Linked DNA regions of Homo sapiens: region 2 is linked to region 1. Evidence: fine-mapped expression QTL. A gene starts in region 1. The other region holds a variant in brackets. All regions are shown on one strand. Distances are between the middles of the regions. Region 1 holds the start of CAPN1 (calpain 1). Region 2 overlaps VPS51 (VPS51 subunit of GARP complex).

Region 1 (4,380 bases):
GTCAGGAGTTTGAGACCAGCTTGGCTAACATGGTGAAACCCTGTCTCTACTAAAAATACAAAAATTAGCCTGGTGTGGTGGCGGGCGCCTGTAATCCCAGCTACTGGGGAGGCTGAGGCAGGAGAATTGCTTGAACCCAGGAGGTGGAGGTTGCAGTGAGCCAGGATCGCGCCACTGCATTCCAACCTGGGTGATGGAGCGGGACTCCATCTCAAAAACAAAAACAAACACCAGAAAACAAACAAATGTTTTGTCCATTTTTATTGGATTTTTATTCAATTGTAAAAGTTCTTTATACAAGTCCTACATCAGATAGAATTTTTACAAATATTCGTCCTAGTCTATGGCTTATCTTTTCATTTTTAATAGTTTCGTGCATTTTGAGAAACAAAAGCGTTTTATTTTGATGAAGTTCAATTTATTGATTTCTTCTATCATTTACACTTTTTGTGTCATATTTAAGAAATCTGGCCAGGTGCCAAAGCTCACACCTGTAATCCCAGCACTTTGGGAGGCTCAGGCAGGAGGACTGCTTGAGCCCAGGAGTTCATGACCAGCCTGAGTAACACAGCAGGACCCCATTTCTACAAAAAATTTAAAAATTAGCTGTGTGTCGTGGCACGTGCCTGTAGTCTCAGCTACTCAGGAGGCTGAGGTGAGAGGATCTCTTGAGCCCAGGAGTTTAAAGTTACAGTGAGCTGTGATCAGGGCACTGCACTCCTGCCTGGTCAATGAAAGCAAGACCCTGCCTTTAGAAAAGAAAAAAGAAATCTTTTCAAACCCAATATTGTTAAGATTGTCTCCATTTTTAAAAAAAAAAGTTTTATGGTTTGGCCATTTATATTTAGGTGTGTAATCCAGTTTGAGTTAAATTTTGATGGTGTATCCTAAATAGTTATCAAATCCATCTACTTCTGCCTGCCACCTCTCTAGTTTAAACCACCCTTCTCTGTCCCTGGACACCTGCGCAGAAAGCCTAGGAGCTGGTTCCACCCATCACTCACCAGGTTAGGTATTTCAGGCAAGTCACACCCTCTCAGGCCTCAGTTTTCCTCTTTTGTTAACTGAGGGTGAAAGTGGGGTTAGATTAGATCAGCGGCTCTTAACTTTTGAGGGGTCGTGGGCCCTAGAGTCCTGGGAACGCTATGCAGTTTCCTCAGCAAAATGCTTGCATCCACAACATGCAAGACTGCAGCAGCTGCTGGGCTGGGGCTGCGAGACCAGCGAAAAGCCCTGACTTGGGGGGGTCTCGGGAGTCTCTGCAGTCTCCCCACCCACACCCCCGGCCTCCGCGCCGAATCCTGGCCCCCCAACTTCTTGCAGCCCGTGAAGCAGGATCTCAGGGTCCTGGGGGTGGGGAGAGGGGGCTGCCGTCCTGCTCGCAGCCTCTGCCGCCCTCTCCTGGGTAAGGTGACACATGGGCGCTTCCAGGTGGGTGGGCTGAGAGCCTGGGGGAGAGAACAGGGATGTCCACCTCTCTAAGTTTCCAGGTTCAAGAAACCCCAGAACGTTAGAGAAAGATGGGCTCCCACAATTGCCCAACCCCATCCCATAGGATGCACGCATGCGGAAAGTCGGGCCGAACGGGGCAGGGACTTACCCAAGGTCACGCAGCGAGCCCGGTCCCCCTGCGTTCCCCGGGGAGCGCTGAGCCGGGACGCGGCGGTGGGGTGGGGAAGGGGAGTGGCGCGGCCCTGCGGGGTGAGGCTGCCGTTTGCTGAGTGTCCGGCAGGGGTCTGCTCGCTGCCAGCCCGGCCCCTCCTCAGAGCAGCTGCCGCAGCCCGAGGTAATCTCGGCCCCGCGCCGGGGCTGGCTGGGAACGGCGGGAGCAGCTGCGGTCGCGCGGAGCGAGGGGAGCTGGGGACCGGGCGGGCCCGGGGCTGCGGGAGGCGGCGCCGCCGCACAATCGCCCCGGAATGCCCGCCAGGGCGCGCGTGGGGTGCGGCCGTCCGGCCCTGCAACTCGAGCTGCTGCCCCTGGTTAAAAATACCCCCTGCCCGGCCCTCCCCCTCCGTTCCCCGCGGTGCCCTTCCGCCGCGCCCCAGCCCCCCCATCCCCCCCCGCGCTGGCCCCTCCCCGGGGACTGCTCTGCCTTTTACTAATTTGTCCTCTCGCGGAATTGGCCCCCGGCCTGCGGAGGGAGGGGCGGGGAGACACCGTGAGTAAGAGATAGTCAGAGACCGTGCCGGAGAGATAAGGGAGAGCCGAGAGGAAGCGGGGTAGGAGCCCCAGGAGGAGGAGGAGGAGAAGGAGAGAGGGAGGGCGGAGGGCGGAGGGGCGGCGGGAGGAGGGCGGGGAGGAGCGCTCTTCCTGGTTGGGCCCTGCCCTGAGCTGCCACCGGGAAGCCAGCCTCAGGGACTGCAGCGACCCCCAAACACCCCTCCCCCAGGTAAGAAGCTGGGTAGCCGAGCCGGGATTCCTTGACCCTGGCCACTGCTCCTGGGCTGAGGGGCTGCCCCAGCACGGTCCCTTCTCGGGGGCCTCTGCGTTCCTGGAGCAGGGGTGGGGGCTGGCGGAGCGGCACAGCCCAGGCGCCTGTCCCAGCCTGGCTCACCGCTGTCCCCAGGGGCTGGGCTAGGGCCCACCAGCTCTGATATCGAGCCTGCTGCGGGGGCCTGAGGAGGGGGACCCCGACCGTCTGGGGTTTTCAGCCCACGGCAAGGGGCCGGTGCACCAGGAGCTTGGTTAGTTTGGGGAGGGGGTTGCAGGCCTGTGAACAGGATCAAAGAGGCCTTCCCTGCTGTGTCCCACCTGCCCAGTTCCTTGTGCTGTCTGGAGGCTCCGCCCTGCCCCACCTGACCTGCTGGCTCACTACAGAGCTGCAAGCCCCTGACAATGGGATCCGGGAAAGGAGAGGTGGCCGGCACGCCTGGGAACTGGGAAATCCCTTTCCTGGATTCACTGGGAGCACCGGGAGGTGGCTGAGAACCCTACTTCTGTGAGGGGAGCAGTGAGGCAGGGAAACCCTAGGTTTGGGGATGGATAAGCAGGGGCAGGAGAGCAGAGCTTGCAGGCAGGAGCCCAGGTTCTAGTCTTGGGAAGGCCTGGGTTCTGAGCAGGCCCATCTGTCCGGCAGGATGTCGGAGGAGATCATCACGCCGGTGTACTGCACTGGGGTGTCAGCCCAAGTGCAGAAGCAGCGGGCCAGGGAGCTGGGCCTGGGCCGCCATGAGAATGCCATCAAGTACCTGGGCCAGGATTATGAGCAGCTGCGGGTGCGATGCCTGCAGAGTGGGACCCTCTTCCGTGATGAGGCCTTCCCCCCGGTACCCCAGAGCCTGGGTTACAAGGACCTGGGTCCCAATTCCTCCAAGACCTATGGCATCAAGTGGAAGCGTCCCACGGTGAGAGGGGCCATCCTGGGTGGGACTCGGCTAAGCCAGATCCTGGATGAGGAGTAGGGATGGGACTCCATGTCCCTGGTGGGGAATGGGGTCTGGGGTGGCCTGGTGCCAATTTCTGGGAGGGGCTGGCCGAGGAACAGGACTCTGGGTCTCTCGTAGGAACTGCTGTCAAACCCCCAGTTCATTGTGGATGGAGCTACCCGCACAGACATCTGCCAGGGAGCACTGGGTAGGCCCCCAGGGCGTCGGGTCCCGGGTATTTTTTCCACAGTAGTTCCCCATTCCCGCTCCTTCAGGCTCTGCCCCAACCCCTCCCTCTTGCAAGCCCAGGCAGGATCTGGCTATCAGCGCTGGGGCTGGTTTGCCCAGATTCCTGGGTCTTTTCTGCAAGCTGAGGGGAGTTAAGTGGCACCCTGGCCAAGGAACCCCAGATTCTCCCTAGCACCCGCTTCCCCCCCCGGGGCAGGTTGGTAGAGCAGGCTAATGTGCATCCCTCCTGCCCCAGGGGACTGCTGGCTCTTGGCGGCCATCGCCTCCCTCACTCTCAACGACACCCTCCTGCACCGAGTGGTTCCGCACGGCCAGAGCTTCCAGAATGGCTATGCCGGCATCTTCCATTTCCAGGTGAGGGCTCCCCTGGGGAGGAGGGGCAGCAGGCACTGGGGGAGATGCGGAAGGATGACCCACAATACCTGCAGTTAGGGCCACACCCTGTGGGGCCAGCCCTCCCTCTAGCAGGTATTTGACCTCTCAGTGCCATCTCGGGTCTGTCATGTGTGAAGTGACTGGGCTGGGCAGGTATTTCGGCTGGCAGTTTTCCTAGGTGGTTGTATGTATCAGGTGGAAAGTGCTTGAAAGAACAGAAAGACTTTTGTGTTATATCCTGTGGGACAAATTCCACTCCTCCCGGAGGTCGGTCTCAGTTGCCCCATCTGAGAAAGGAGTGTTCGCTGGGGAAAACAGATCAGCACGTGTGGCCTTCTCCACGTGTCAAGCCTCCTATCCCCCAACTCCTCCTGCGCTTTGGCAAGGTCTG
Region 2 (4,380 bases), 76 kb before region 1:
ATCATGTGATTTTATTCCTTAGTAACCTTCCTTTCTATGAAATCATCTCTAAGAGGGCTAAATGATCCTTTCTTGTGGACTGTGTTGTTAAAATGAAAAGTCCATTTTGCTGATACGTAATCTACCTTTCCATGTAATTTTTTAAAAAATCCCTTAATAGCTCTACAGATGTGAGCCCTGTAGATTCTTTGTCTCAGACAGTTCTTTCTCTTATATTTTCTCTAATATTTTTTTCCTGCATTTTTTGTTTCTGTTTGTTTCTTGTCAAATTGACATCAATGCTTTTCTCCTTACTCACCCTTCCAGCTGTCTCCCCAAGTGGGGTAGATTCCCAGTGTTGCTTGGAGAACATTCCTACAGTCCCAGAGCCACACACAGACCAGGTGTGGGTGTGTGAAGGCTCACAAGTGATTGCAGTTAGATATTTCCAGATTCTTCTTTGTAAATGCTGATCAGTTTGCATAACCACCAGCAAAGAAGAGAATACCTCTTTCAATCTTTGACAATCTGAGAAGTGAAAAGTGGTATCTCTTATTGTTTATAGTAACGTTTACAGGGTGTTTTTTTTTGTTTTTTTTTTTTAGGGCTTTCTATTTATTCAATTATTATTATTTGAGACAGAGTGTTGCTCTATTACTCAGGTTAGAGTGCAGTGGCACAATCTCAGCTCACTACAACTTGTGCCTCCAGGGTTCAAGCGATTCTCCTGCCTCAGCCTTCCCAGTAGCTAGGATTACAGGCACCTGCCACCACGCCCAACTACTTTTTGTATTTTTACTAGAGACAGGGTTTTACCATGTTGGCCAGGCTGGTCTCAAACTCCTGACGTCAAGTGATCTGCCTGCCTCGGCCTCCCAAAGTGCTGGGATTACAGGCATGAGCTACCGTGGCTGGCCTATTTATTTGATTATATCATCTGCAAATAGTGATACTTCTCCCTCCTTTCCAATTTGTGTATCTCCATAATACATCTCGTGACTCTAGCTGAGTTGGCTAATGCCCCAGAACAATGTAGATAACATTGGCAATCAAGGTTGTCCTTGCCATGTTTTGACTTTAATTGGAGTGCTTCTAGCACTGCCTCGGTAAACATGATACTGAGTTTTGGAGGTCAGGGAAATATTTAGCTGCTCATATGTTATTGAGAGTTTTTTAAAAATCAAGAATAGATGTTGAAATATCTATTAACATGGCAAATTATTATGAGATCCTCTAATTTTGAGTCATCCTGGCATTCATGAAACAAAAACCCTTTTGTGTTTATCAATTATTATTTTAATATGCTGCTGGATTTTGTTTGCTTATTTGTGCATCTCCATTTGTTTATTTAATTCATCCTTGCATCTCCATTCATAAGAGATATGAATGTGTATATGTGAGGTATTTCTGTTATGTTTTCATAACAGTGTTATGTTTGTTCCATCAAGTTTGTGTGAGAGCTGTTCTCGTTTCTCTGCTGGGGCAGTGTTTACACAGAGAATTGGAAGGCGCTGTCCTTCAAGCCGCCGCAACACCCCTGGACATCTGGGCCAGATGCCTTTGTGTGGAGGGGAAAGGGGAGTAGGACCTTTCTTTCACAACATTCTCTAGTTTTTCTGTTTCTGTTTTCTTGTTTTTTGCAATCCATTTTGGTAAATCCTATTTTTGTAGCAAATTATCCATTTCATCCATAGAATTCACCAAGCCCTTACCAATTTAGTGTTTTCTTGGTATTTTACCCATGCTGCAATTTCAGTTTTGATTTCCTTTTCTGACCTCATAATTGGTTAACAATGAGGTTTTTTCGACTGGGCACGGTGGCTCCCGCCTGTAATCCCAGCACTTTGGGAGGCCGAGGCGGGTGGATCACTTGAGGTCAGAGACCAGTCTGGCCAACATGGTGAAACCCTCTCTACTAAAAGTACAAAAATTAGCCAGGCATGGTGGCACGTGCCTGTAATCCCAGCTACTCGGGGCTGAGGCAGGAGAATCGCTTGAACCCAGGAGGTGGAGGTTGCAGTGAGCTGAGATCGCGCCACTGCACTGCAGCCTGGGCGACGGAGGGAGACCCTGTCTCAAAAAAAAAAAAAGAATGAGGTTTTTTTCTTTGTGATCTACCATATGGAAAGGTTTGTATATATTTTATGGCATTGTTTGGGAAAAATGCAAACTGTGTGCTTCCTATGCTCTCACATCACCACAATCATGACCACAGAAGAGTTCTGTGACCAAATGTGTTGGGTTTCTTCCCCACACACCAAGCAGCAGACACCCGCTGGGTGTCCTCTGATTTAATTCCAACACTATTTACCCAGAGATAGCATCAGATTCCATGAGTTGAGGGCTGAGTCCCCAAGCCTGCCTCCCTTCAGGCACTAGTTCAGTCCCAAATCTGCCTCCCCACTTTCAGGCACTAGCTGCAGGTCAGGGCCTCAGGCCTCCAGAATTTCTGACCAACTGGCTCCAGGTAGGGGTTTCCATAACTCCCTCTTTGGGCTCAGTTTGCTGGAGTGGCTCACAGAGCTCAGGATAACACATTTACCAGTTTATTACAAAGGATGTTACAAAGGGTACAGATGAGCAGGTGCATAGGG[C/T]GAGGTGTAGGAGAAGGAGCATGGAGTTTCCATGCCCTCCCCGGGCGTGCCACCCTCCAGGAGCCTCCAGAGCTGAGATCGCGCCACTGCACTCCAGCCTGGGTGACAGAGTGAGACTCTTTCTCAAACAAAACAAAACCAAAATATCTCCTGTTACAGATACACATTTCTGTCTTATCCTCTTCGCCTTTCTTTATGAACATTGTTGGTATGTTCAATGGAATTAGGGAAATTAGTTGGGAAATGTTGGCAGTTGTTGGACAAGAGATGATAGTGGCTTACAAAGAAAATGTTGCAGGTAGACCTTCCATGACTTGGTAATGGATTGATTACTAGGTATATTAATCCAGGTTCATACTGCTGTAAAGAACTGCCCGAGACTAGGTAACTTATAAAGGAAAGAGGTTTAATTGACTCACAGTTCACAGCATGGCTGGGGAGGCCTCAGGAAACTTACAATCATGGCAGAAGGTGAAAGAGAAGCAAGGCATCTTCTTCACAAGGCAGCAGGAAGGAGAAGTGTTAAGCGAAGCAGGGAGAGCCCCTTATAAAACCATCAGACCTCGTCGGGTGCGGTGGCTCATGCCTGTAATCCCAGCACTTTGGGAGGCCAAGGTGGGCGGATCATGAGGTCAGGAGATCAAGACCATCCTGGCTAACATGGTGAAACTCCATCTCTACTAAAAATACAAAAAATTAGCTGGGTGTGGTGGCAGGCACCTGTAGTCCCAGCTACTTGGGAGGCTGAGGCAGGAGAATGGTGTGAACCTGGGAATTGGAGTTTGCAGTGAGCAGAGGTCGTGCCACTGCACTCCAGTCTGGGCGACAGAGCGAGACTCAGTCTCAAAAAAAAAAAAAAAGAATAGGTGGAATTGAATTGAGGCCGTCAGTGAACAGTCAGGAACATTGGAAGGCTCATCCATGTGGATGTGCACAAGGAGGTGACAGGAGGAGGAGAAGAGGCAGTGATGGGGAACTGAGAGGAGTGTCAGAGGACAGTAGAGACAGCAAAGAGGAGGGTTGTGGCTTGATGGCATGGTCTTCCTAGAAGCCGGGGTTTTGAAGAGAGGAGATCTAGGCATGATTTAGAAGCATGAAGGGACCAGGCTCCCAGGCACCTGGTGTGTGAAAGGAAAAACAGCCTCCCTAGGCAGGATTCTATCAGGACCAAAGGGAAAGGGCCCTTCAGAGAAGACAGCCCATGTTCCGGAAAGCATGTGAAAGGCTTTGGGAGGTCTGGAAAGGAGATGAGGGTCAACAAGAATGTATTGCCTCATCCAGGCAGTGCGCTGGACACGCAGATGCGCTTGGGAGCCAGCGGTCCCTGCCTTGGCTGCTTGTGGTCTGATGGAGCAGTTGAGGCACAGTGGTGGCAGCTGGCTAAGCACCTGCGGCCTGCTTCGGATCTGGACTAATTCTGAGGGCCGGCTCTCCTGGGCACCAGGGTTAGGGGGTTACGGGGAGTATGTGAGTAACGCCTGCTTTGGGAACATAAACCCCCTCCCCCGCCCCCATGTGCGCTGTGACCCACGCCCTCGCAGTCCTTTCTCTGGAATCATCCATGCGCCCCTGGAGCAAGCTGGGGCGTCTGTGAAGGGGTGGGTGAGAAGGAGCTGAGGTTGCGCCCGCCCTGCAGTCACCTGCTCTCCCCTTTTCCCCGCCCCTGCCCTCCTAGACACCATCCGGAAGATGAAGAACGATTTCCGGAAGATGGAGGATGAGATGGACCGGCTGGCCACCAACATGGCAGTGATCACCGACTTCAGCGCTCGCATCAGCGCCACGCTGCAGGACCGCCACGAGCGCA

What was found. PIP is the estimated chance that this variant, and not a neighbour inherited with it, causes the effect. A credible set is the group of variants that fine-mapping cannot tell apart.
Region 2: its variant is the best candidate, but not a certain one, in a credible set for the expression of CAPN1 in whole blood (INTERVAL, PIP 0.83).

The regions. Positions count from the first base shown.
Region 1 is chr11:65,179,625-65,184,004 of GRCh38, forward strand. CAPN1 (calpain 1) reads left to right here and starts at 2,304. Exons shown (of 22, transcript NM_005186.4): 1 at 2,304-2,389; 2 at 3,077-3,344; 3 at 3,504-3,573; 4 at 3,850-3,968. The coding sequence starts at 3,078. It overlaps CAPN1-AS1 (CAPN1 antisense RNA 1), which reads right to left and starts at 2,210. Exons shown (of 2, transcript NR_145677.1): 1 at 1,601-2,210; 2 at 247-1,448. RefSeq lists silencers at 1,623-2,072, 2,674-2,968 and enhancers at 1,991-2,780, 2,781-3,569, 3,570-4,359.
Region 2 is chr11:65,103,333-65,107,712 of GRCh38, forward strand. VPS51 (VPS51 subunit of GARP complex) reads left to right here. Exons shown (of 10, transcript NM_013265.4): 3 at 4,249-4,380. Among named protein-coding and RNA genes, the nearest start is that of TM7SF2, 6.3 kb to the right of the region's middle. The variant C/T (reference allele first, on the strand shown) is at 2,574.